Linked DNA regions of Homo sapiens: all the other regions are linked to region 2. The links come from fine-mapping of genetic effects on gene expression. A gene starts in region 2. Each other region holds a variant in brackets. All regions are shown on one strand. Distances are between the middles of the regions.

Region 1 (6,158 bases), 37 kb before region 2:
TCCTTTTGTGTCATAGAGGGGCCCATGATAGACTTTTGTCCCTTTGTTGGTAGTGCTTGGTTTGATCACCTGGTTCATGTGGTGTCCGCCAGTTCTTATCACTGAAAGGCTACCTCTTTCCCTTGGCAAGTAAGAAGTAATTTGTGAATATATGTTTCCCTCTAACCCTTCCACCCAATGGCCTCAGCATTGCTGATTGCTGATCCTTCCCTGAATCTACTTTGATGTGGAGGATTGGAAGGGATGACTTCTTGGTTCTGTTTTCCATATCTATTAGCTAGTATCCTATAAATGGCTCATCCTTATTATTATTTTTTAATTTCACTATGAACTCTCAGATTCAGTTTTTTATTAAGCTGTTTTTTGTTGGACATCATACCCTTTGCCTTGCGAAGTATTTACCAAACTATGAAATACTAGTCCTGTGACATGTTCTAAGAAAAGCTAGCATCCTATGGTTAAATAGTTTGCAGAACATAATGTATTTATATCTCACAATGTTACATAATCCACATTAGGATATTGAAAACCACAAGAGCCTATTTAACTTTGTTTAAGCAGGTGTTTCTCAAACTTATTCGACCATGGAAATCTTTTTCCTATTCAACATTAGTACTTGATGGAACACATTTGCAGAAACACTGGCCAAGAGCCAGCTCTATTAATGTTTAAATATTTCATCAATAATATGAAACAAAGACTGATGATGATGGTTGGTGTATCACTGTTCAATAAACTGTATGATTACAATGGTTATTTTCCTATTATCATATTCATAAGGTCAACTCAGCATACCCCTGAGGGGCTGGAGGTCAAGAACAACCCTAAAGTAGGCAAAGATTTCTTTAAAAGAACACAAAAACAGTTAACCATCAAATAAAAGATTGGTGCATTGACTTCATTAAAAGTGAGGACTTCTGTTTATCAGGAGATATCAACAAGAGTGTGAAAAGGCAAGCTTCAGACTGGGATAGTACACTGTACTTATAAACACGTGTCCAGAAAATGTAAAGAACTCCTACAAATATGTAAGTAAAAGATTAAATAAATCTTTTTTGAGTCACTTCATGAAACAGTAAACAAAACATTTACTCAATGGGCAAAAAACATAAATAGCCATTTCACAAAAGAGGGTAACCAATGACCAATAAGCATATAAATATATTGGCCTTAGAGAAACATGAAGTGAAATCCACAATGCCATACCACCACGCTCCCACCAGAATAATGAAATGAAAAATGACAAAGCCTGACAGTGCCAGGTATGTGTGTGGAAGGTGGAGTTGGTAGATGCCATGAGGCACCACCTGGACCTCCTTTCAGTCAAGTAACTGCTGCCCTGCTGCTGAGAATGCTGACAACCTTCACTCTCTGATCCTTCAGGGATTGCCTCTGCATCTTGTTCAAGGTCACAGTGACTGACAGGCAGAGGGTACAGAGGACTAAACCATCTGAGCCCAACTCAGGACAATTCTAAGGGCCCCATTCTAACTCCCTCTGTCTGGGGGTTGTTGGCCCTGCATCACACAACTTCTCCCTCTGGCCAATCTTACTTCCTCTACTCCCTTCCACAGGAGTTAATCCCAAGGACATTTGGTAATAAGCATCCTGCACACTAAGCTCTGTATCACAGCCCTCTTCCCAGGCAATCCATCCTGTGACATGGTGCAACTGGAGTACTCACACGTTGCTTGTTTATGTAAACTGGTACAACCACTTGATAAAACTATCAATGTTTACCAAAGTTGACAATCAAGTCTTGTAGTTCAGCAATTCCCCTCCTAGATAGTGACCTAGGAGTGAGTATTGTGTCTATCCACCAAAAGTCATGTACACAGATGTTCATAGCAGCTTTATTCATGATAGACTCAAACTGGGAATGACTCCAATGTCCATCAACTGTAGATTGCCTCCTCTCCTCTTCTCCCTCTCTCTTTTCTTTTCTTTTTTTTTTTTAGGATGGGGTCTCCCTCTGCCACCCAGGCTGGAGGGCAGTGGCCTGATCTCGGCTCACTACAACCTCTGCCTCCCAGGTTCAAGCAATTCTTCTGCCTCACCCTCTAGAGTAGCTGGGACTACAGGCATGTACCACCACGCTTGGCTAATTTTTGTACTTTAAGTAGAGACAGGGTTTCACCATGTTGGCCAGGCTGGTCTTGAACTTCTGACCTCAAATGATCCACTCACCTTGGCCTCCCACAGTGCTGGGATTACAGGCATGAGCTATTGCACCCAACCCTCTCCCTTTCTCTGCCATCCCTCTAGAGACTACAGGGGTCAGAGGAATTCTCACGCTCACAACCGATCCAGGTCCCCTCACCTGGACAGAGTTCCCACATCAGCATTTGGAGGCCAAATATCTAATAGCAGCATTTTCCAAATTGTGCTCCAGAGAGTGCTACTATGTATAATTGAAAGAAAGTGTCCTGGGGTCTAGTTATTTTTGAGACATGAGTGGAATTTGAGTTTTTTCCAAGATGTGAGATGTGTTATGTGGGGTTTCCCAAACTTGCTTGACTCTATCATCGTTTTCAGCAAACCCTCTCATGGTATAAGACCTCTTCAGAACACACTACAGAGCTGTGCTGTGAACAAACCAACATTTTAAACTAAAAAAACTCACTGAAACCTAAAAACACCTGGTATTTAACTATAGGCATGGACCCAGCATTTATTCTTCAGTGTAGTATCTGATACATAGAACCCTTTGCCCTGCTGTCCCCAACCTGCCTCTGTATCCCCACTGCCCCTCACTAATCCTATTTTTACTCTGAATTCTTCCTGAGAAGTAGACCCAGCCTGTAACAGTAGAGCCTTGAAGCCCTGCTGTATTGCCATCCCCGTCTACTGTGTCCCACAGACACCTCAAGATCCCGGGAGGGACTAGCTCAGGCTGATGCACCGATCTTGAAAAGTGAACAGAGCCAGCAGCAGTCTCTGGGGCTGTGTCTGGAATTTCGGCTCAGCCTGGGTTTACTGGGATGCTGACATGTGAAAGTAGGGAAGGTACAAATTATTTCTTGCTAGTAAACTAAACTGTATCTGCCTTAAGAGAAAAAGGAATGGCAAGAAGACAGGACTAGGATGTCTTTGACATCAGGGTTTATGTGTAGATGACCATCTCTGTATTGTGGCAGTGCCAGATGCAAGTGTAACCTCTCAATAAATAATAGCTGAATGAGCATGGAATGAGTGGATTCAATTTAAGTGAAAGGATTAACAGTGGGGAAAAGGTCATTTAGAGTTAGGAGCTTGTTAGAAGAATTAGAAATTAAGTGGCAGAGTTAGAAACTCAACTCTGCCACTTTATTAGCTGTGTGACTTTCAGTGATTCATTTTTAGTACTTAGAGCCAGTTTCTCAAAAGTAACATCGAGTTATTTATCCTTCTACCTATGTTCACGTACTTGCATATGTATATGTGCATAGGAAGATGCTGGGAATGATTTACATCCATTGTTAACATGGCTGTTTTGGGGAACTGAAAGTTGGGGTGACTTTTTTTTTTTTTTTTTTAAGAAGGAGTCTCCCTCTGTCACCCACGCTGGAGTGCAGTGGTGCGATCTCGGCTCATGGCAACCTCTGCCTCCCAGGTTCAGGTGATTCTCCTCCCTCAGCCTCCCGAGTAGCTGGGATTACAGGTGTGTGCCACCACGCCTGGCTAATTTTTTGTATTTTTAGTAGAGACAGGGTTTCACCGTGTTAGCCAGGATGGTCTCAATCTCCTGACCTC[A/G]TGATCCTCTTGGGGTGACCTTTTCTTCCCTTCACTAATCCTGATGTTTTTAAAGGTATAAAAGCACATCACACTCAAAATAGTGTAAAACTGTAAATATGAATCATTGATACTGAAGTTTTTAAAATGGGAGGATCTTATACTAAAAAATCCCCATAAGCTAAACCAAGAATCTTTCCTTCAGTTTTATTCCCAACTCATACATACTAAATAGGTCTTCGTATTTACTCTTTCAAGCAGCTAGTCCTCTACCTTTTTCTCTGCTGAGAAATCTTGGAGGAATCCTTAGAGGCTAACATGAAGACTACTAAGAAAATATAGAAAGAAATAACACAGCGTCTTACCTAGAATAGCAGCAAATCTTTTAAAACTCAATACCTCGATGTTGGGGATGTTGAATATTATCTAAAAACTATTTATAGGCCAGGCATGGTGGCTCACGCCTGTGATCCCAGCACTTTGGGAGGCCAAGGTGGGAGGATCACAAGGTCAGGAGATCGAGACCATCCTGGCTAACATGGTGAAACCCCGTCTCTACTAAAAAATACAAAAAATTAGCCAGGCATGGTGATGGGCACCTGTGGTCCCAGCTACTTGGGAGGCTGAGGCAGGAGAGTGGTGTGAACCCGGGAGGGAGCTTGCAGTGAGCAAAGATCACACCACTGCACTCCAGCCTGGGTGACAGAGCGAGACTGTCTCAAAAACAAACAAAAAAACCACAAAAACTATTTATGAAAATATTTATTAAAAATACTAGATAATATTCAACGATGTAAAACCAGTTGGAATGATCCATTTAAGAGATGAAGAGCAACTATGTTTTATTAGTATTTATGTGGCAACATATTTTAAATTAAGAAACGAGGTCAACAGCTTCTTTCAGAAGTTTGTGGTAATATTCTCTGCTTCATAGATCCTAGAGGTCAGTTGGGTTCCAAATTGGGCAGCACCTTACTCCTTTAGCTACATATATTTTCATTCGTGGACCTCTAACAGACAAATAATATAACTTGAGAGAATTTCAGAGTACTACTTTTTAGCCTCAAAGACGTTCTTCCAACTATCCACTATTGATACATTTAAATAATTTATTAAAAAATTTACAAACACTTCAAATAAAATTATGAAGTTCTTCAGAAGATATTCCTAAAATATAGGCATGTTTTCCTTTAAATATCTGGGATTCTATCTACAGTGCCTCTGTTATATTCATTCAAATTATTCTTATAATCTAAAACAATGAAGCTTCTCAACTGGTGGAATGCTGCCAGAGGATTTCAACAGAGTTTGAAGGCAACATAACCAAAAGGCATAGTTTAAATTGGCTTAGGAAATGAATGGGCTCCTTATCAGAGCAGCTGAAGGCTGTATACAATTAACAGCATCTGTCAACTTTCATAGGGCCCCATATAGAACAAGCAGGCCCTACAGCCTGGCGGCAACCTTCAGCTTCTGGCACCTTCGGATCCACATGACCTGAAAACAGAAAGACGGCTTCAAGCCATCACTAGAAGGCCTCTGAATCATTTTAGTGATATTGCTAATTAATGTTAATTATTTGAACAATTCTGTTAACCTTAGCATCAGGCTTTAAATTAACCAGCTACCATTCAAAATATAAAATCATTTGTAGAGATAAGTTTATATTTATAATAACTGATTTTACAGTCTCTTACATGTTATTTTTATTTTTAAAGACTATGAAAATTATCTACCTACCTGCCTTTTTATATGATGAACTCTCAAATCAGCTAAAATATTTTTGTATGAAGAGTACTAAATTCATTATATGGCAATTTTTAATTGTTTTTGTATATAATACATTTCTCTCATGAGCATGTACAAAACAAAGCAAATCCAGAGTTTCATTAAATAAATTTATTTGTTAAAATAATTTAACTCCAAATACAACTGTTGAATTTGCATTGAGTTATAACTACAATTCATGTTTTAATTGAAATGTCAAGGTTTAACAACTGACATTGTTACAAAACAATAAACTTGTTCAATTTTAAATGGTCAGTTGTATTAGAGCGCAACAATTAACTGTGAACTATATCTCTGGGAAACCTCAAATCAATAATGATAAGTCTGTTTCCAAAACCCACTGCAGTCATTCTTGAAACCCTGATCAAGATTTAATAGATGAACAATGACATGTTAAATAAAAAAAAAAAGACCTCCATAGTCCTTAATGTTTGATTGGCTAAGGGACAATTAAAGCTTACCCAGTGCTAACACAAGACTGCTGATAAGAACAAAAAAATTAAAAACACACACATAAACAAAAAACAGCAACAAACAAAACAAAGCACTTTCATATTCATACATACACTGACAACATTAACATTCATACTGGAAAACCCTTGAAAAGAAATACCAGACAGCCTTAGGCAACATTTCTTTATATAGAAAAGCAAATATCA
Region 2 (6,158 bases):
GTAAAGAAGAGGCCACCTGCATTCACATGTCCTCTCCATCAATGATGGGAAGCCAGACGCTGGGGTTAGGATGAGGTGTAAAATACCTTACTACTACCATATTACAAAGACACACAAGTGAGGGTCCAAGAGGTTCTTATGTATACAACGGTTGAATTCTGGTGAAGAGAATTTATGAACTCTACTTCAGCTGATCAATGATCTTTTTATATCAAGAACTGAGACTAGTGAGTAAAATGATACTGGGCATGCAGAATTTTACTCTATGTTTTTCCTCTGGGTCATAGTGAAAATAAACAAATTGCTCCAATATGCTGAGTTTAGACTAACCTATTATTATAACTGAGAAAAGTAATCTGCACTAAATTACAAGAAACTACAAAATTATGTGGACCATATTATCCAATAATATTTTGCCATATTTGTTCCCTAGGCTTGTGTCAAGAAGTTAGCCATGGGTATGTGGCTTTATCAGTGTATATGTGCATCTTCATATCTTTAAGCATATATATCTAAATGTGAAGGGTGAGGCTGTTGGGGCATTTACTTAGATTATTTTTTGATGTATGCATTTGGCCTAACATTGACATGTGGCAATGTATCAGACTACCCTGCAGTTGGTTTGGTTTGTTTCTTTTTAATTGAGTGGTTGGGGGAGGGGGTAATAAGAATTTAAGTAACTTAAATGTAGCCCCTTAAATGCCATCCTCATACTAAGTTTAACACCAGAATTGTTCATCTCTTAACTATAAACATTTAACTTTAGGAAAATGATACTGGAGAAGTACAAAGCTATCAAATTTACAAATCTTAGCAGCAGAGACCACGAAAATATCTGCTTTATTCTAGTTTGGAATTTAACACAAGGATGAATAACATGCACGATTTTAGTTCAGCGATTAAAGTGCATACTCAGTTAAGGGGGGGTGGAGCAATAGAGAGAGAGCCTTCTCTTTGATCTCATAGGTTGCATTAAAAACTCACTACTCGTAATGAATTTTTGATCATCCCCTGGGTACACATAACTTGGTCCTTGCTCTTTCAAAATGAGTGGACTCAAACTGACTTACAATGTGACTGTGTCTACGGTGCACTTACAACCATCTTTCAGTAAAGGTCTTCAGATTTAGGCTCTAGGTAGAATAAGGCAGGAAAAAAAGGACACCAAAATTATCAGCAGGCATTAACTAACAAGAACTAGATGAAACAGTAATGTGTAATTAAATGATAATTAGAAAAATTTGCCAAAACTTTGAACTAAGATATTATCACATTTCTAATGCTTAAAATTACACGGAAAAATATATTCAGTGAATTTAAGAGAAAACAAACATTTTAAATCATTTATCAGCCATATTTCCAAAATGTATACTTTAGAAAAGAATTTATATATATATATAAAGGCTTATTAACATTAACTTTAAATTAGCTAATACTTGTGTCACACTTTTGAAGAAGCTTCTGTTTTGTTTCCAGGAACTGGTGGTGGTGGTGTGGTGGTGTTTTTTTTTTTTTTTTTTTTTTGGAAGGGGTTAAGGCGGCTATATTAAAAACAAAAAAACAAAAACAAACAGTTAAGCTGCATTCTTTTCCTGTGAATGGCTTATTTGTACTCCTCTGTTAATATTCTCGAAACCCCATTTAGCTTATGATGTCTTCAAATAATTTAATAATCTGTCTTTAAAGTTTTGCACTAAATTAGAGACTTAATTTTTGTAAAACGCCTTGGAACCATAAACCTTTAACGAGATGAGAAAGGTCTCCTTCCTCTGGACTTGACTTTACTGTATAGGTGTGTGAGCGATTTTTACTGTCAAACATTGCCAAGGCAGATTGTTGTTGTTCAGTCTGCAAATGTCTCGACTATACCTGCACAGTTCCTCTCTTCCCAAGACAAATCTATCCACCCCTTTCCCCCCTGCAAGTTTTAAACTTTGTTTCCTTGGGGGCTCTGTAACAAGCAATGCTAACAACGTCCAAGAGACAAAGAGCTGTTCTGTGGGCTAACACGATGCCAAATTTTAGTTGTGAAACAAAGCACTCAAATTTGAGATTGAGGAGGAGGAGCAGAATGACAATAGTAAAGCCTCCAGCTTGGAGCCACCCCCCAGAAAGCCCCTTCCCCGGAGCCCCGCGCGGGGAGTTCCAGCCCCGGGACGGTGACTCCGGGGTGCAGCCGCCAAGCCCCCGTGTGCCCTCGCTCACCGCTTCACGCGGATGATCTGGTCCCGCATGGGCTTGATGTCCTGGAAGCTCTGCTGGTTGACGAGGCTGTAGACGAGGATGAAGCCCTGGCCGTTCTTGATGTACAGGTCCCGCATGGACGCGAACTGCTCGGTGCCCGCCGTGTCCAGGATCTCCAGCACCGACGGCGACGAATCCACCTCGATCTCCTTGCGGTAGAAGTCCTCGATGGTGGGGTCGTATTTCTCGATGAAGGTGCCGGTCACGAACTGCACGGTCAGGGCGGATTTGCCTACCCCGCCCGAGCCCAGCACCACCACTTTGTACTCGCGCATCGTCCCTCCGCGGCCGCCGCCGCCGCCGCCGCCCGCGACATAGACCTACGCCGGCCGCGCTGCGCCCCCAGCCCCGGCCCCGGCGGCCCGCCCCGCCGCCTCCCGCTGCCGCCCCCACCTCACAGCCGCGGCGGCCCCCTGGGCGCCGGCGGCGGCGGCGGCAACTGAGGGAGCAGCGGCCCTGGGCATGGGCCGGGCCGAGCCGGGCGGCGATGCGGCCCCGTAGGCACCGGGTGGGACTGAGGGCGAGCAGAGAGAGAGACCGGGAGCCGCTGGTGCCGCCCGAGCCGCGGGCCCGCAGTGCCGCCCGCCCCGCCCCTCGCGCCTCCACGCCCAGATCCCCGCCCGCCGCCGCCGCCGCCGCCGCCGCTACCCCCAGCGCTCGAGCGCGCGCCCGAGCCCCAGCCGCAGCGCGGCCAGGGGCGGGGTCCGGCGGCCGGGGCGGAGCCCGCGGCGCAGCCCCGCCCCCGCCCCCTAGGCGACGGGCCGCGAGCGCTCCCGAGAGGCTTTGCGGGGCTCGGAAGCTTCTGCCCGCGCGGAGATAAACAAGCACCGCGACCGCCGAGCAGCGCCGAACCCAGCGCGCCCAGTCAGACCCCAGGGCCTGTGTACCGAGCATGCGCAGTTCCCGCCCAAGCCAGGAGCAGCGTCAACCTGAGACTCCCGAGACATTAAGAATTCGGAAGGGATGAGATGGTAGAGGGGCTAGAGCTACCTCCAAGCTTTATCCTGAGGCGGGGAGTGAAGGAGAGATGCCCAAGGCCCAAGAGGGGCCGCGAGGGCCTTTGTCCGATGCCACCCAGTCTGTCAGCACTCCTAGAGCTTTGGTTTTATCTTGTATTAGCATGTGAAGCTTTAAGGGGGGGGCACCTACAGGCTTCTGACTGAAGTTGTGTAAACGCAACAAAATGAAGCTTTGGAGCGTTAGGACATTGATGGGAGGGTGACGCCCCCCTCTAGCAGCGCGCCAGAGGGGCGAGTCAGAGGCGGCCACACACCACGGAAGTCGGGTCCAAGCCCGCTGACGTCGCCGGGGTCCCGCCCACCAACCCTCTGGACCCGCCCACATTTCTTCTAGACCCGCCCCTTTCGGTGCCGAACTGAAGTCGAGCTCTTCCCACGCCCTGTCAGCCACGGGTGAGTTGAAAACCTGGAGAGCGGAATCCCGAACGGCAGCCGGAAGGCCCTGGACTCCTCATAGCAACAGCCAGCTAGGGGCATCTAGTGGGAAGCTGGGATTCATTCTAGCCAACCACATCACGTCTCTGTACCACAAGGTACCATTCACGACCAATAAGAGAGCGCCCCCATACCACGTGCCTTTACTCCTTCAACCAATCGAGAAAAACGCTAGTCGTAGGATCCGCAAGCCCACCTCCCAGTGCCTTGCCAGGCGGGGCTCTTCGCGCACGCTCTGCCAACCAATCGTAGGTGAGCTGGCGAGTGACGGAAGCTTCGGCCAAGCCAACCAGAGCTCGCGAGCCCCTTGCCACCGAGGCCGGCGGGATGGAGACAGGGACCGGCTGCTGGGGTTTGGGAGGGGCAGAGATTGAGGAGCCAGTTGCTGTGCCCTGTTCTGGCAAAAGAACAAGATGCGTTGCAAGCCAGAATGATGAATTCCACTTTTCACGTCGCCTCCGTGGCATTCTGCCTAAATGATGGGCATGGAAATGGTGCTGAGGGATGTGGGCTGAATCGAGAACACAGGGACTTTTGTCTTCAGGGTGAGAAATGTTCCGGTCCTTAAGGAAACATCGTGCAGCAGTTGCATGGGTCTTCCAGGCGTTCCTCCCAAAACATTATTTTTTTTCTTTCACTATTGAGTTTTAAAACTTAGCGTTCTGTCGCTAGCATTGCATCTTAGTTACACATCCTCTCCCACCCATAACGTCAAATTTAGGAGACGATACATCCCCAAGCTTTCCTGCATTATTTTTTGCAGTAACTGGTTATTCAGTTTACTTTCTTTAAACTATGTCCTTCTCAAACTAGTCTCACCTGTTCGTTACTGTCGCACATTTCCTGCGAATAACACGTTTCTGTAGTTCTGTTGTTAGAGCCTGGCATACCTCTCCCCGTTCCTCTTTCCCACAAGGTCATCATGCAGAGGGGATTTTGGTCTGAGTTAAAAGCCAGGTATTCTTTCACCATCTTTTCTGTCGATAGTCAAACTACTACAAAGACTACTCAAATTTAGTAGTTTCTTATTTCCCTATAGCTTCGTTATATTAGAATGGATAACTTATATTTGCATTACCTTGCTGTAATGAACACACACCAAGTTTTCATTTAAAATTATCAAGGACAAATGTCCTCTGAATTTAAAAATGTGTATGTAGTAAAATATAACTCAGCATTTCTTGATTACATATCATTAAAATATGAATGGTACTATCTGAGCCACCAGAATCAGCAGTGAAGGTATTATATTAATAAAAAGGACTAAGAATCAGGACTGTTTTAAGGGAACTGGAACCGAAGAGGATCTACTATTTCATCCTAGGCTAGTTAACATGAAATAGTGAATTAAAATTGAAAGAGCTTACATGGATGCTTCATATCTGAGCTACTTTGGCAGGGATGTTTCAAGAGGATGTAGGTAAGTATGGTGTTCACCTAGCTTTCCAGAAGTCTCATATTTTGTGTAAAATTGGTATGCTTATTCATGGTTACTTTGGGTTAGTAGAAGCTATACTTCTTTTCCAAGGAAAGACAGACTGTCTTAAGATTCTAACTGTGCATCTTGGTGATAAGAAGTTCTTAGGGTTGTTAAATAGAGCCAGGAAGCGTGAAGCTTTCTCTCTAGATCATGACAACTCATCTAGTACCTTGCATTACAAAGGAGCTCTAAGTCCATTTACTTTGCAAGGAATGAAGTTCCAGTGATTAATGTTTTTGAGAAATTTGTATTGGGATTGTGGGGTCCAGAAGGTTGCCTTAAGTAACTGTTTTCATGACTCCTAGGTCCCTAGATGTTGAGAAGCTCTGGATTGAAGCTGTCACAAAAATAGTGAGTGGGCTCCGTAGTCACTCCATTTAGCATAATACAGAGTAGGACAGCTTTGTGACATTTCTCAGGCTATTTCCCCTGACCTCTCATCAATGCTGACGTTTTTGATAAGAAGGGGTATAGAGACTGCAGCCCTTGGGGTGGTTACAGTTCATTTATTTACAGGCCTTATATTGACAGGCCTCAGATTTCATGCTCAGTACCATAAAGGTTGATTTTTAACCACCAAGAGGCAAAAGAAACATGACAGGTCGGAGCATATTTTCTCACCTATTCTGGCTTAAATGATGGTACTTACCTGATTTGTGGTTGTAGGTGAAATGTTGGGTGAAAGATTAGCTGCTATAAAAAGGATGTCAGGACGTGTAGAGAATTTAGAGGACTTGGGTGGGAGATGGATGTCTATTTTCTAACCCCTTAGTCATGTTCATTCCGATGCCAGCATAAACTCTATTTTGAGATGATTATAGAAATAACTTATATCTTCATTTGTTTGTGGGAAATAAAAAATAAAAATGATATAAAAGAAATTTGAATTATTCCCAAGAGCTGTAAATCTGTAAGATAGTGAAAACTTAACGCAGTAACTGACACTGCAGGATCCCTTTAGTTTCCAAAGTGCATTGCCA
Region 3 (6,158 bases), 49 kb after region 2:
AGAATTTACAAGCTAGAGTCTTACAAGCTAGGTCAGTATTGTGATCATATTTTGCAGACATGGAAAAGATGACGTGCATAATTTTAACTGGCTTGCACAATGTACAAAGTGCTTGCACAAACCAGCATGAGTTTGGAGATGTCACTCTGCTCATTGGTGAAGGCATCCCCTCCAGGGCATGGGGACGGTCTGAGATAGGGCGACGGGACACAGAGGTTCCAAAGAGCATGGCTGTGCCTCATGGAGCCTGCTTCAGAGGGTGCTTAGAAGAACCCCTGTGAGCTTGGGAATCAGGGGAAGGCGAGGCCCTGGGGTGGAACCTACAGCAAATGCACTTGGAGCTTTAGAGGGGAGACAGTGAGACTGTTTGGAGGGGCTAGATGGGTGGAAATTGCTGGGGGACTGTGAGGCTGCTGGGCCTCTCATTCAGGGCATCCTTGCCTGGGTGGTCAACCACATCCTGCCCCAGGGCTCCTCCAGATGGATGTTGCAAACGTGTCTGCTTATAGCATCAGAACACCCTACCGCACCACAGTGCCGCTGCCTCAGCTGCTGAGAAATCTTGGCAAACTATGACGGTAGGAAAGAAATCAAAGATATTCAACAAGCTATATTTCTATTTGTCTCCCTGGGAGACTATTGCCTCAAGTAAGTAGTGTTTTATATAACAAAGCACCATGACAGGAGAAGGAAGTTAAATTATTAAATAAGATTCTAGCTAATCTAGTATGGTAAATCAAAATTCTGAACTGCAAGCATTATTTTCAATTCCTTTTTCCACTAAAAGGAGAACAGACAAAAATAGGAATAGCTGATGCCCACAGTATCTGTGATTCTGTTTTTAAGGCAAAGATACACTTGATCTCAAATCATGAGTACTTTTCTAAATCTTCAGTGGCCCCTCTGGGTGGAACAAGAGTATCTCTGATGCAAAAATATCAGCTGGCTACAATGGAGTCTGCTTATCAATAAGGAAAGGAAATCACATTAAGTGAATTAAACTGTCTCCCCTAGGTGGTTGGATTTAAGAATCTGATGATTCTGCTCAATATACGTTCTCAAGTTACCCCAATGTGAATCCAGTACCTGATTAGTTTCATATTTACTTGTTGAAGACAAAGCATGAATGGCTTCAAAAGCATCAAATGGGTTATTTTTCTATCAAATATGTTATGAGCAGCCATTTAATAATTATAGTGTCCTCAGTGAATTGCCTGCCATTGACTCACAGTGCAGTGGTAGCCAACCTTACTAAAAAGTGGACCAGATTAGGTACTGTCTAATACTAAGCCTCCTGGGGCCAGGCAGGAAAGATATGTAAGTGAATAGGCCAGGTCGAGGGTGTGGCAACAGCCACTCAGCCCCAGCCAAGTGCTACCTGCGGAAACATGGGCTCCATATTACTTGACCTTTTCATTTGCCAAAAGAAGCTGGAAATTCAGCAATGAATTCACATCACAGAAGGATCATATATATCTTTGGGCTAAATTCAGCTAAGAGCTGCTGGTTTGTGTCCTCATCAGCTTTACTTTCTTGAAGGCAATATCCACTATATTCACTAAGTCTGGATGGCTTCCTGAGCTGGCATCAGCCAACGCTACAGGCAACATCATGGCAGGCAGCAGTGGTAAGAGTGAGACCAGGAGAGCAGGTTTACAGGAGAGTTAGTCCTACAACTTTCAGACATTTGGCTTTCGCCCAAAGAAAGAGAGTATGTGACCAACAAGGCACCCTCTACCTAAAAAGAAAATACCAACCCTCCCTTGACTGAGTCATCAGTTATGAAACATGCATGTTTTCTTGTCTCTGCCATGTGATGATGGATTTAGGCTGAGCCATCCATACCTGTCACTCATGATGTGCGCTCAAAAAAGAGCTGAACAGGGTGAGAAACACACTTGGTTCAAAGCAAAATAGTCTCTGCAGAGACTGAAACACTGAACTTGAACTAATCAGCACCATGAACTTAACAGCTGAACTAACCAGTCCTCATGCAGAATGGTGCAAGAGAAGACAAATCAACGTAGAATTTCCTTAGTATTTCAGAGGTACCAAGTATTAATACATTCTGGGTTTTCTACCTTGAGGTTGATCTCCAGGAATTGTACGTATGTATAACTTTGGAAACTGTGGGCTTCTAGGTGACTTCTAGAAGTGTTTATACTTCTTATGTAAAAGTGCTCATTTCAAAGATTCAAGGATGTCAGATGAGTTATTTTTTAAAATGATAGCTCAATATTAAATTTGGTAAGAACTGTTCCTGCTCTGCTTAATTGATAGGAAAACATTCCAGTGAAAATGCCAAGAATTTCCATATATGCAAGTCATCAAGCAATTAGAAAAGAGAAATAATGGATGTTTTGGTTCAGTCTTCCTGTGAATAGCCATTAGGACTGTCTTTGTAATGTTGAGTTTGGATGGCATAGATAAAAAATACCTTATAACATATTTGTGCAGCCTTGCTAAACTACTAAGGAATCTCAATGCATCTTGATGTCACTAACATGGAATCTCAAGTGGGTACTTCCAAGCAGGGCTGGTGCACTAACTGGGTCCACAGCCAAACCAAGCTCTTTAAGGACAGGGGGACTGTCTCATTCATCTTTATAGCCCCAGTATCTAGGATAGGGCTGGGAATTTATTAATTGTTGCTTGCATGGATGGCTAAATAAATTGAAGTCATTGAAGACACAGTGCCACAATGCTGGCATCAACAGAAGACCACCAGACCATTCATGGGAGAAACAGGAATGGGGCAGAAAAAGAACCCTTTGCACAAGATGTGTCATCTGTGCACCTT[G/T]TTAGGGTAGTTAAGGACTCAGAAATATCTAAGAGAAATAAACATTCCCTCCCCATTCTCCCATTCTCCCTACTCCCCATTATAGATAAAGGGGAAAATATTCCAGGCTGGGGGCAGAATCACTCACAGAGAAGGGAAATACAGCAGATAAAAATTCACCTAAAGTAACCTTCTAGACTTGGTAGGTTTCTTAGAAATCTTTTGCCATGGTTACAAGGCCCTGTTTCCCCAGAAGGCAGTTAAAGATATTAATAATATTTCACTGCCTCTTTAAACAAAATTTATTATTAATTTAAAAATAGGCAATTAATTGGCATTTCCTAAAAATAGGGCTAAGCTAAGGAGGCTCGCACGTTGCTCACCCTCCCAGTCTGTGTTTCTTCATCCAGTGTTTTCTTCTGATTCTGTCTCACAAGTTCCTTCTTCCCACTCTCTGTTAGCATTGCTTCCTCCTTTAGTCTGTGCACCATTTAATATTCTCTCCACCTTTTCCCCACTGCCCCACACCTCTTCTCCACAGCAGCCATGACTGTCTGAAATGCCCTGATCTTGCCTGAGAGGCTACACTTGTGAGATCTTTCAGTTGAAGCAAACTGCACAGAGGCAAAGGGACATGTGTACATTTTGACTCCAGTATAATTCAGTACTTAATCACAGTATGGATTACTGAAGTCAAAAGAAGTGTCTTAGTCTCTTAGTGAATATATGGTATCAGATAAAAAAGTAATTAAAGCAATTATAATTATACATGTTAACAAATGTACACTTTCAAGAACTTTCTTTGGCCTATTTCATGACTATAAAATTTTAAATATAGGCCGGGTGCAGTGGCTCATGCTTGTAATCCCAGCACTTTGGGAGGCCTAGGTGGACAGATCACTTGAGGTCAGGAGTTCGAGACCAGCCTGGCCAACGTGGTTGAAACCCTGTCTCTACTAAAAATACAAAAATTAGTTGGGTGTGGTGGTGCACGCCTGTAATCCCAGCTACTTGGGAGGTTGAGGCAGGAGAATCACTTGAACCTGGGAGGTGGAGGTTGCAGTGAGCCAAGATTGCGCCACCACACTCCAGCCTGGGCAACAGGACGAGACTCCCGCTCAAAAAAAAAAAAAATTAATTATATAAAAAGCTCAGAGATCATCAGTAGTATATGAAAAGACACTTAAAAATAGTCTGATTCATTATTCTGGGGGAATATTGTTCGGAGGTTGGGCAGTGTCATGCCATATTTGACTTATTTTCAAAATGTAGTTTTATTTGCACAGAAAAGGCATACACTGAGGTCCTGGGGAAAAATTATCAAATATGACAATCAGCTTTACTCTGGAGAAGAGCACACTGAGGTTGTAATGTCCGTAATATTTCATAGCACCTTCAAGAGGAGTTTTGCCAGAATTATTGTTTTGTCCTCTGCTGTTTAGTAGAAAGTTTATATTCAAAGCTCTAATTCCCCTAGTTTCAATGATACTTTTTGTGGATGACTCATTTCTGTCCAATATTTTCCACTTGATTATATTTGAACAAAATATTTTTAGATATACTAAAGAAAAATTGTCATTTAAAACTATTAATAATTGACGTTTTACATGAAAAGCAATAATACTGTCCTCGCTGAAGATTACTGACCAGGGTTCACATTGACAACTTAGAGTATCTGGATAAAATTCATAAACGGGAATGCTCAACTTTGAATAAGATTCTGCTCTTTGCATGAGTCCATGTCACATGTAAAAACATCTAGGTTCTTATGAGTATTGCAGTTAGGCTTTGATTATAATCCCCTCCCTGACTCCAGACAGTCTCCTTCAATCCTAGCTCCCCTGGGGGAATTCTGAGGATCATTTCTGTGGCTCTCATGCTGAGATGGGAATCTTGTCCTCAGACCATCTAACAACCCATATGTCATCCAAGGGTGAACACTTTTCTTCTCCTATATGATATAAATGAGGATGAAGGTAAAGAGGCATGAGAAGGAGACTTTTCTTTCCTGGCCCTTTCCGCTGGCGTTCTAGAAGTGTTTTAAGCAAAGACATATTCAAGAGCACTGTGTATTTATTCAGAAGGAGGGGAGTTATGCGACTGTGTTTCCTCAGCAGGTGCCAGAAAAGGTAAAATCAAAACAAAACCCTAGATTGGAAGGACTGCATGATAGCCAGGAAAAAAAAAGTGAAACCCTGTCTCTACAAAAAAATTAGCCAGGCATGGCCCAAGTGAGGCTAAGGCAGGAGAATCACTTGAACCCGGGAGGCGGAGGTTGGAGGTTGTGGTGAGCCAAGATGGCGCCACTGCACTCCAGCCTCGGTGACAGAGTGAGACACCCTTTTCAAAAAAAAAAAAAAAAAAATAGTTGGCAGATGAAACCATGGCATCAAGAGAAATGGGGAAGAAGGTGGTGTGAATGGGTCTGGTGGCTACCCAGAAGCAGGCCCGAGATTTTATCTTCCTATTCCTTACCCAACATTTGTGATTCCACACCATACTTCCCATTCCGACTCCACAGGCTTTCCCCGGATGACATTCTAGTCATGGAATTCACCAGGGATTATGGCGCCTCCACAGCTCCAGCAGGTGGAGGAGGTGACGGAATTTTCTATTTTCTGTTGCATGGACATCTGGGGGTTTGGTGATATGTTTCTTGAATCCCAAAGATATAGCAACATCATAGACATGAGTGGCATTTGGCCTGGGCCATGCTTTAGCACTGTGTTACTTATAAAAATGCCACAAACTAAATAAAATGGTTGTAGGCCAGCCCAGAGATCTAACCACCAAGGCCATGGCTGTCTCTGTAGGAGAACTGAATTTCAAACCAAATGACAAAGGTAATTTTGAATATGTTTAAAATTAGGGACTGTATGTGTACTAAAGCAGGATAAATTCCTCTACTAAATCAAGAAAAAATATATAATATGTGGGACACACTAAGAAAATATTTGAAAGTGTTTAAAATATTTACAGTAAGTTGTGTAGGAAGTGAGGCTCTCTGAGATTAAATAGGCTGCTTCACTGAAGATGACTCCTGGACATAAAGTAGAATCTGAGAAAACATTTTTATACCTTTAAAAATCAGCACTGTATTCACTGCTGTATTCCCAAGGTAGGTCTTAATATTATGTAACATAATATGTAATATATGTAATATGCAGACAATATGTTACATAATATTAATTAATATAATATGTAACATAATATTAAGACCTACCTTGTTGTATACATTGAAAATATTTTCCTAATATATCTATTTTTGTTCATGGTTATTGTTGATATAAGTATATCTGGAATATTTTAAAGAACAGGAACTGGCAACTCAGGAGTGAAAAATAAAAATTTAATAAACGTGAAAGTTAAAAAAATTAAA
Region 4 (6,158 bases), 96 kb before region 2:
AATGTCAGGGTAAAGCAGGTTGTCAACATGACCCTATGCCATAGAGACATCAGGGCTGATTAATGTATCAGAGAAAGACAGAGAGAGTAAAGGAGAGAGAGACTGATATGGTTTGGCTGTGTCCCCACCCAAATCTCATCTTGAATTGTAATCCCCAGGATTGCCACATATCAAGGGGGAGGGATCCAGTGGGAGGTTATTGGATCATGGAGGTGGTTTCCCCATGCTGTTCTCGTGATAGTGAGTGAGTTCTCATGAGATCCGATGGTTTTATAAGGCAGTTTTCCCTGCTCTTGCACGCTGTCTCTGTCTCCTGCCATCATGTAAGACATGCCTCTTCCCCTTCTGCCATGATTGTAAGTTTCCTGACATCTCCCCAGCCATGGGGAACTGAGTCAGTTAAATCTCTTTTCTTTATAAATTGCTCAGTCTCAGGTAGTATCTTTATAGCAATGTGAGAATGGAGTAATACACAGGCTCAGAAAAGTTCCTTGCATTTGGCAATTGAGAGAATAATGGGATGATGACTTCTGTCAGAAAAGTTTGTGATCAGGAGGTGGGGGTGGAATTCTGACTTGGGTGGGCCAGAGGAACTCAACGGTGGAAAAATAAGTGGTGACATCATAAATTGACACCTGTGAGAGATGGCGGATGAACTGAATAAAGTGTAGGGTATTTAGCTTGTCATGATTGTCCCTGAGAAACAGGTTGCAGGAATGCTACTTGCATTGAATAATTTTATTAGTTATCATTTAATTCCTTTAAATTGATTTCTTTAGTTCCCTATCAGAGACAAGCTCAAACTACACACAATGAATACATCACGGACTTCTCCTTCTCTTTATTTCGCTTCACTCTGGGCAAATGAAAGACAACAAATAAATATTGTGGATCTTGGTATTTAATGGTTTATAATCAGATAATTGTTCACTGTCCAGTACTCACTGTTCCTAATGCCCCCTAATCCTTCAGGCATCACAGATATGAAGTGGATTTGGTATCTGATGCCTTTCTTTTTTTTGTTTGTCAAATGAATGAATGAATGAACCTAGTCCAATCATCTGTTTCCAAAAAGGATGCCGCAAAGTACACTGGAATAAGATTCTAACTTCAGGCCTCTGAATTATCTGAAAGCCTACTCTAGTGTTTAATCACCTGAATCATCAGGGAGTTTCTTCTTCAATTTCATGTAATTATAATATTTTCAAACCATTTGCTCTAGATTGGCCTTCAGGAGAGGGCCAGAAATCAGCCTCCTGCAGCCTGCAAAGTTGGTGCCAGGCTGCTCCATTGCTCATTCCTGGATTCCTGGATGGAAACTCTCAACCCAACCTCATGCTGCCTCCAAAGCCTCCCTCCCCTGCCACGTGTCTTCTCCCTCCAGGCCTCCACTTGGGCAGGGTGAATGGGCTCTCCTCTCACCAGTATCTGCTCTCAACAGCAGCAGCCTCTTCTCCTTCGCTAAATCAATCCCTAAATCAATCCCCATCTACTTTGCATTTGAAAAACATGAAAAAAACGTGGCCCTTGATATCACCTGTTTTATTTTTTGTTTTTGTTGTTTACGCCTTTGCAATTTTTTCCCTCTATAATTGTAGTAGGGCCTTGGGAGTGAAAGATAATAAACAGCTTCTATTTGTCATCTTTTTTTCTTCCACATTCCTTATGAACAAAATTTGTTTCCAGGCTTTGGGGGGTCATGACAAGGTTATAAGTTATGAGTCTACAGAGTCTTTGGGTATGCACTGCCATCTGGATCTACTGTACCAGGGGCTGGCCAGAGTGTATCTTTCCAAAGGAGTCCTGCATCTGCCTGCTTAGGGGATGATCTAGCATTTCCAGCAGACCTGGAGAGGACAGAAGGGGTTGGATTGAGGAACCTGCAAAATCTTGAAAATAGAGGGGGCTTCACGTCATAGCCCAAATGCCTTAGCTTATGAACTGATTCACTAGAGAGCCCTTTTGGAGGGAAAGTAGCAGGCATGTTTTCTGTTCTATCTATGTCTTTTATCCTACTCTGAGCAAGAAAAAAACAGGCCTGTCAGTTCTTTATCCCCAGCAAGACCCAAGCTGGACTTGCATTATTTCTCACTGAAGAAATCCACACTCACTGGCCTGAGTAGGAAAAGAAAATAACAGACTATTTCAATAAACTGTGAGGCCTAAATGACTGGATTACCTAGGTCCTATTGAGACAGAATTTATAGAAAAACAGACTAGAGAGTTAATGAAAATGTAATGAGAAGTCTTCAGGAGATAAAATAAGGGAACATAAAATTTCTGGAATTAAAAAAAAAATGCCTAATTTCTAGATGTAAAGTTAAGAGATGAACTCGAAAAGAGAGCAGTTCCTGATGAAAATCACATTGGTTATCAGAAAGATCAAGTGGAGGAAATAGCTCACAACCCAGAGCATAGATGCAAAAATATGGGAACCATAGATGAAAAGACAAAAGACATGGAAGACATAGGTGTGCATTTAAGAAAAAAATTAATGGCCGGGTGCGGTGGCTCACGCCTGTAATCTCAGCACTTTGGGAGGCCGAGGAGGGCAGATCACGAGATCAGGAGATTGAGACCATCCTGGCTAACACGGTGAAACCCCGTCTCTACTAAAAATACAAAAAATTAGGCGCGGTGGCGGGCGCCTGTAGTCCCAACTACTCGGGAGGCTGAGGCAGGAGAATGGCGTGAACCCGGGAGGCGGAGCTTGCAGTGAGCCGAGATAGCGCCACTGCACTCCAGCCTGGGCGACAGAGCGAGACTCCGTCTCAAAACGCGCGCGTGCGCGCGC[A/GCA]CACACACACACACACACACACACACACACACACAAAGAAATTAATATATGGAAGATAAATACTGATCAACAAATAATAATAATAGATGAAACTTCCCTGTGCTGAACGAGACCTTGCTTTTGGTTCAGCTAACACCAGGAAGTTGTAATAACAATGACAAAGAAATCAATCTCATCCAAGTGAGTCTTCTGAAGTCCGGTAAGATAAAGTTTCATAAACTTCCCCGTGCAAAGAAAGGGCTGTTACATAAAGAGGAGAATGAGACTAGCATCAGTCTCACTACAGAATGGAAACTGGAAAACAGTAAAGATTTACAAAATTTTGAGATGAATCACAATGTCATTTAAATGTGAGAACAGAAGAAAGCCATTACTAAAAATGCTATGGCCCACTCTCTTTAAGGAAACACTCTTATTTATATATTCCAACCAAACCGAATTTAAGGATAACCTAGATCTCAGGACAGGAGAAGATGAAGAATACAAGAAACCGCAGTGAGCAGTCCTGTAAAACACATAGTGAAGTCTAAAGGATGGTGGTCATGTGGCTGTGAACTGTAATGTGAGGTAAGTAATAATTCCCTAACAGAAAAGAAAGACTGCATGTCTCTGTATGAAATCCTATGTGTATTCCCAGAAGTAAGCACTTGCTAATATATACTGAATAAATACTTAGGTTAAGAGTTCAGTTTTAAATAAGTCTCAACAAAGTTGGTTCCAGAGCAGATTAATAAAAATCTTGATATGGGGACGATTACTTTAAATTTATTACCACATATCTATGATTTTGTGACTTAAAAGTTAGGAAACTACTAGCTAAGAGAGAGAATTTCCTAATTTCTAGAATTAGAGTGGAAATTTAAAATAATACAGCAAATTAGGAAAAAAAGTAAGAAGAAACAACAAAATAATTATCAACATAAAGTAAAATGGAAAAATAAAAGATACTAAGTATCACAATGAAAGTGAAGAGATGCTTTCTTATATAAAAAGACAAGCAACTTCATAGCTAGGCATGGTGACATGCGCCTGCAGTCCTAGCTATTCAGGAGGCTGAGGCAGGAAGATCACTTGAGCCTAGGAGTTTGAGGCCACAGTGAGCCATGATCGCACCACTGGGCAACAGAGCTAGATCCTGTCTCAAAACAAACAAACAAACAAAAACAAAACAAAACAAAAAAACAACAGAATGCTTACACATTCTAGCTATGTGTTGTTTAAAAATAAATTCAACTAAAATAGAATAGTAAAGAAATGTAGAAAATAATGAAATATACTAAGACATTTTAAGCAAAATAGAAAAAAAAGCTGCTATAACATAATACTAGATAAAGAAGAGTTTGAGGCATAAAGCATTGTATGGGGAAAAGATAAAAGGCATAATCTATAATAAATTACAATAAATTAACAAATTTCAATGTCTCCAAATAGCAGTTAAATACATAAAGCAAAACAAATAAAAACTAGAAATACAGAGACCTTATAACATCCAAAATCATACCAGAAACTATAATACACTTAAATCAATGAACATTAAACAAGAGTAAAGATATTTCAAATAATATGATCAATAAATCTGATTTAAAATTAGGTATGTAGATAATTTTCTGCCCTACGGACAAAGATGCACATTCTTCACTATGTCTATCAGACAGTTGCAAATAAACCATTTACCTGACTACAGTGAAAATTAAGAAGTTTCAAAATAACATTTTTATTGGCCACATTCTCTGACTGAAAAGCAACAAACTAAAATTTATTCACAAATAATAAAAATATTACTTTTAAATTAATAGATTTCTAAAATGCTCAAACTGGAAATCACACCCCCAGGCACTTAGAAAATGCAAGTCATCTAGAGAAATGAACCACTCATGGTGTCCTCACAGAAGTTTCACACATAGAATCGCAACAAATATGAGATCACAACAAAAATTCTCAAGACACATGACAAGAGGAGCAGCTTCTGAGGATGCTGACTTGGTTGTTTTGGACTAATCCTCCTACTGAAGACTGTAGCCTGATACTCTTAGTGAAATACATGAATCTTTGTACATTGTAAAGATCTTCTCCATTGCCTTGAAATATTTGAGCAGAAGGCTGATCCATCAAAGAATACAAAAATATCAGGATTAGACATGTCAAACAAAAAAAAAATTTTTTTTTTTGAGATGGAGTCTCACTCTGTCACCTAGGCCAGAGTGCAGTGGCACAATCTCAGCTCACTGCAAACTCCGCCTCCCAGGTTCACGCCATTCTCCTGCCTCAGCCTCCTGAGTAGCTGGGACTATAGGCGCCCACCACCACGCCCAGCTAATTTTTTGTATTTTTAGTAGAGATGGGGTTTCACCGTGTTAGCCAGGATGGTTTCGATCTCCTGACCTCGTGATCCACCTGCCTCGGCCTCCCAAAGTGCTGGGATTACAGGCGTAAACCACCGCACCCGGCCAAAATTTTTTAAAAAAATTTTCATCCACAAAAGCAGAAGTCTGGTTGGGTGCAGTGACTCATGCCTGTAATTCCAGCACTTTGGGAGGCCGAGGTAGGCAGATCACTTGAGGCCAGGAGTTCGAGACCAACCTAGGCAACATGGTGAAAACCTGTCTCTACTAAAAATACAAAAATCAGCTAGGCGTGGTGGCACATGCCTACAATCTCAGCTGCTGGGGAGGCTGAGGCATGAGAATTGCTTGAAACCAGGAGGTGGAGGTTGCAGTGAGCTGAGATCATGCCACTACACTCTAGCCTGAGCAAGAGTGAGACTCCATCTCAAAAAAACAAAAACAACAGAAAAGCAGAAGCCAATCAACCCATCTATGCTTTTTTAGAAAATAATTTACGTCCTACTCGAAGATAACTGAGTTACTTGAAGAAAATTGAAGCTGCTTCCCTGCAAACTCCATTTTGGCCTGGTGGGGACTCCAATCCCATGGCGTGCTGTGTGTTCTCTATCTGCTAGGTGTCTTCCATGGCAGGCAGTCAGAGATGCAGTAGCCTGTCCCTCTTGGAACTGATATTTACATACTCTCTCATGCTCAAATATTTCTAGGCATTTGAGAAGATATGAATCAACCACACGCAAAGTTGTATTTATGTTGATATGAGTTACCAGGCTAGAGTCACAGAAAACAACTTGACGAAGCCTTTTATAGACTCTAGGGACACTGAGCTCACCTGAAAAAGTCCTAGATTCAGCTGATACGTCATTGTTATTAGCCCATATTTCCAAAAATAATTGTGCCAAAGTTTATCTTTTAACAGCCCAAATCTAATTATTACGTGATTGAAAGAGTCAGAGAGATTGGTCCCCAGAAGCCCTATATGAGGGTCTTAATTTGGGAGAAGTTTTGGTTTTAAGGAGAAT

Alleles and levels. Alleles are on the strand shown, and positions count from the first base shown. SD is a standard deviation of normalised expression in the study named.
As copies of A replace G in region 1, the expression in neutrophils of the gene that starts at base 2,821 in region 2 goes down (large effect, 1.0 SD a copy in BLUEPRINT).
With allele T in place of G in region 3, the expression in monocytes of the gene that starts at base 2,821 in region 2 is higher (moderate effect, 0.52 SD a copy in Quach 2016).
For the expression in iPS cells of the gene that starts at base 2,821 in region 2, GCA is the low allele of the variant in region 4 and A is the other (moderate effect, 0.71 SD a copy in HipSci).

Evidence for each region. PIP is the estimated chance that this variant, and not a neighbour inherited with it, causes the effect.
Region 1: its variant is the best candidate, but not a certain one, in a credible set for the expression of RAP2A in neutrophils (BLUEPRINT, PIP 0.89).
Region 3: its variant is the best candidate, but not a certain one, in a credible set for the expression of RAP2A in monocytes (Quach 2016, PIP 0.75).
Region 4: its variant is the best candidate, but not a certain one, in a credible set for the expression of RAP2A in iPS cells (HipSci, PIP 0.60).

Annotation. Positions count from the first base shown.
Region 1 is chr13:97,467,429-97,473,586 of GRCh38, reverse strand. It overlaps RAP2A (RAP2A, member of RAS oncogene family), which reads right to left. Exons shown (of 2, transcript NM_021033.7): 2 at 4,459-6,158. Among named protein-coding and RNA genes, the nearest start is that of RAP2A, 36 kb to the right of the region's middle. The variant A/G (reference allele first, on the strand shown) is at 3,733.
Region 2 is chr13:97,430,832-97,436,989 of GRCh38, reverse strand. RAP2A (RAP2A, member of RAS oncogene family) reads right to left here and starts at 2,821. Exons shown (of 2, transcript NM_021033.7): 1 at 2,206-2,821. The coding sequence starts at 2,519. RefSeq lists silencers at 2,645-2,704, 2,725-3,084 and enhancers at 3,235-3,284, 3,305-3,434, 2,706-3,637, 3,585-3,724.
Region 3 is chr13:97,381,659-97,387,816 of GRCh38, reverse strand. All of the region lies in intron 8 of MBNL2 (muscleblind like splicing regulator 2), which reads right to left. Among named protein-coding and RNA genes, the nearest start is that of RAP2A, 49 kb to the left of the region's middle. The variant G/T (reference allele first, on the strand shown) is at 2,801.
Region 4 is chr13:97,527,238-97,533,395 of GRCh38, reverse strand. It overlaps LOC105370324 (a long non-coding RNA gene), which reads left to right. Exons shown (of 6, transcript XR_007063845.1): 6 at 1,223-1,642. Among named protein-coding and RNA genes, the nearest start is that of RAP2A, 96 kb to the right of the region's middle. The variant A/GCA (reference allele first, on the strand shown) is at 2,795.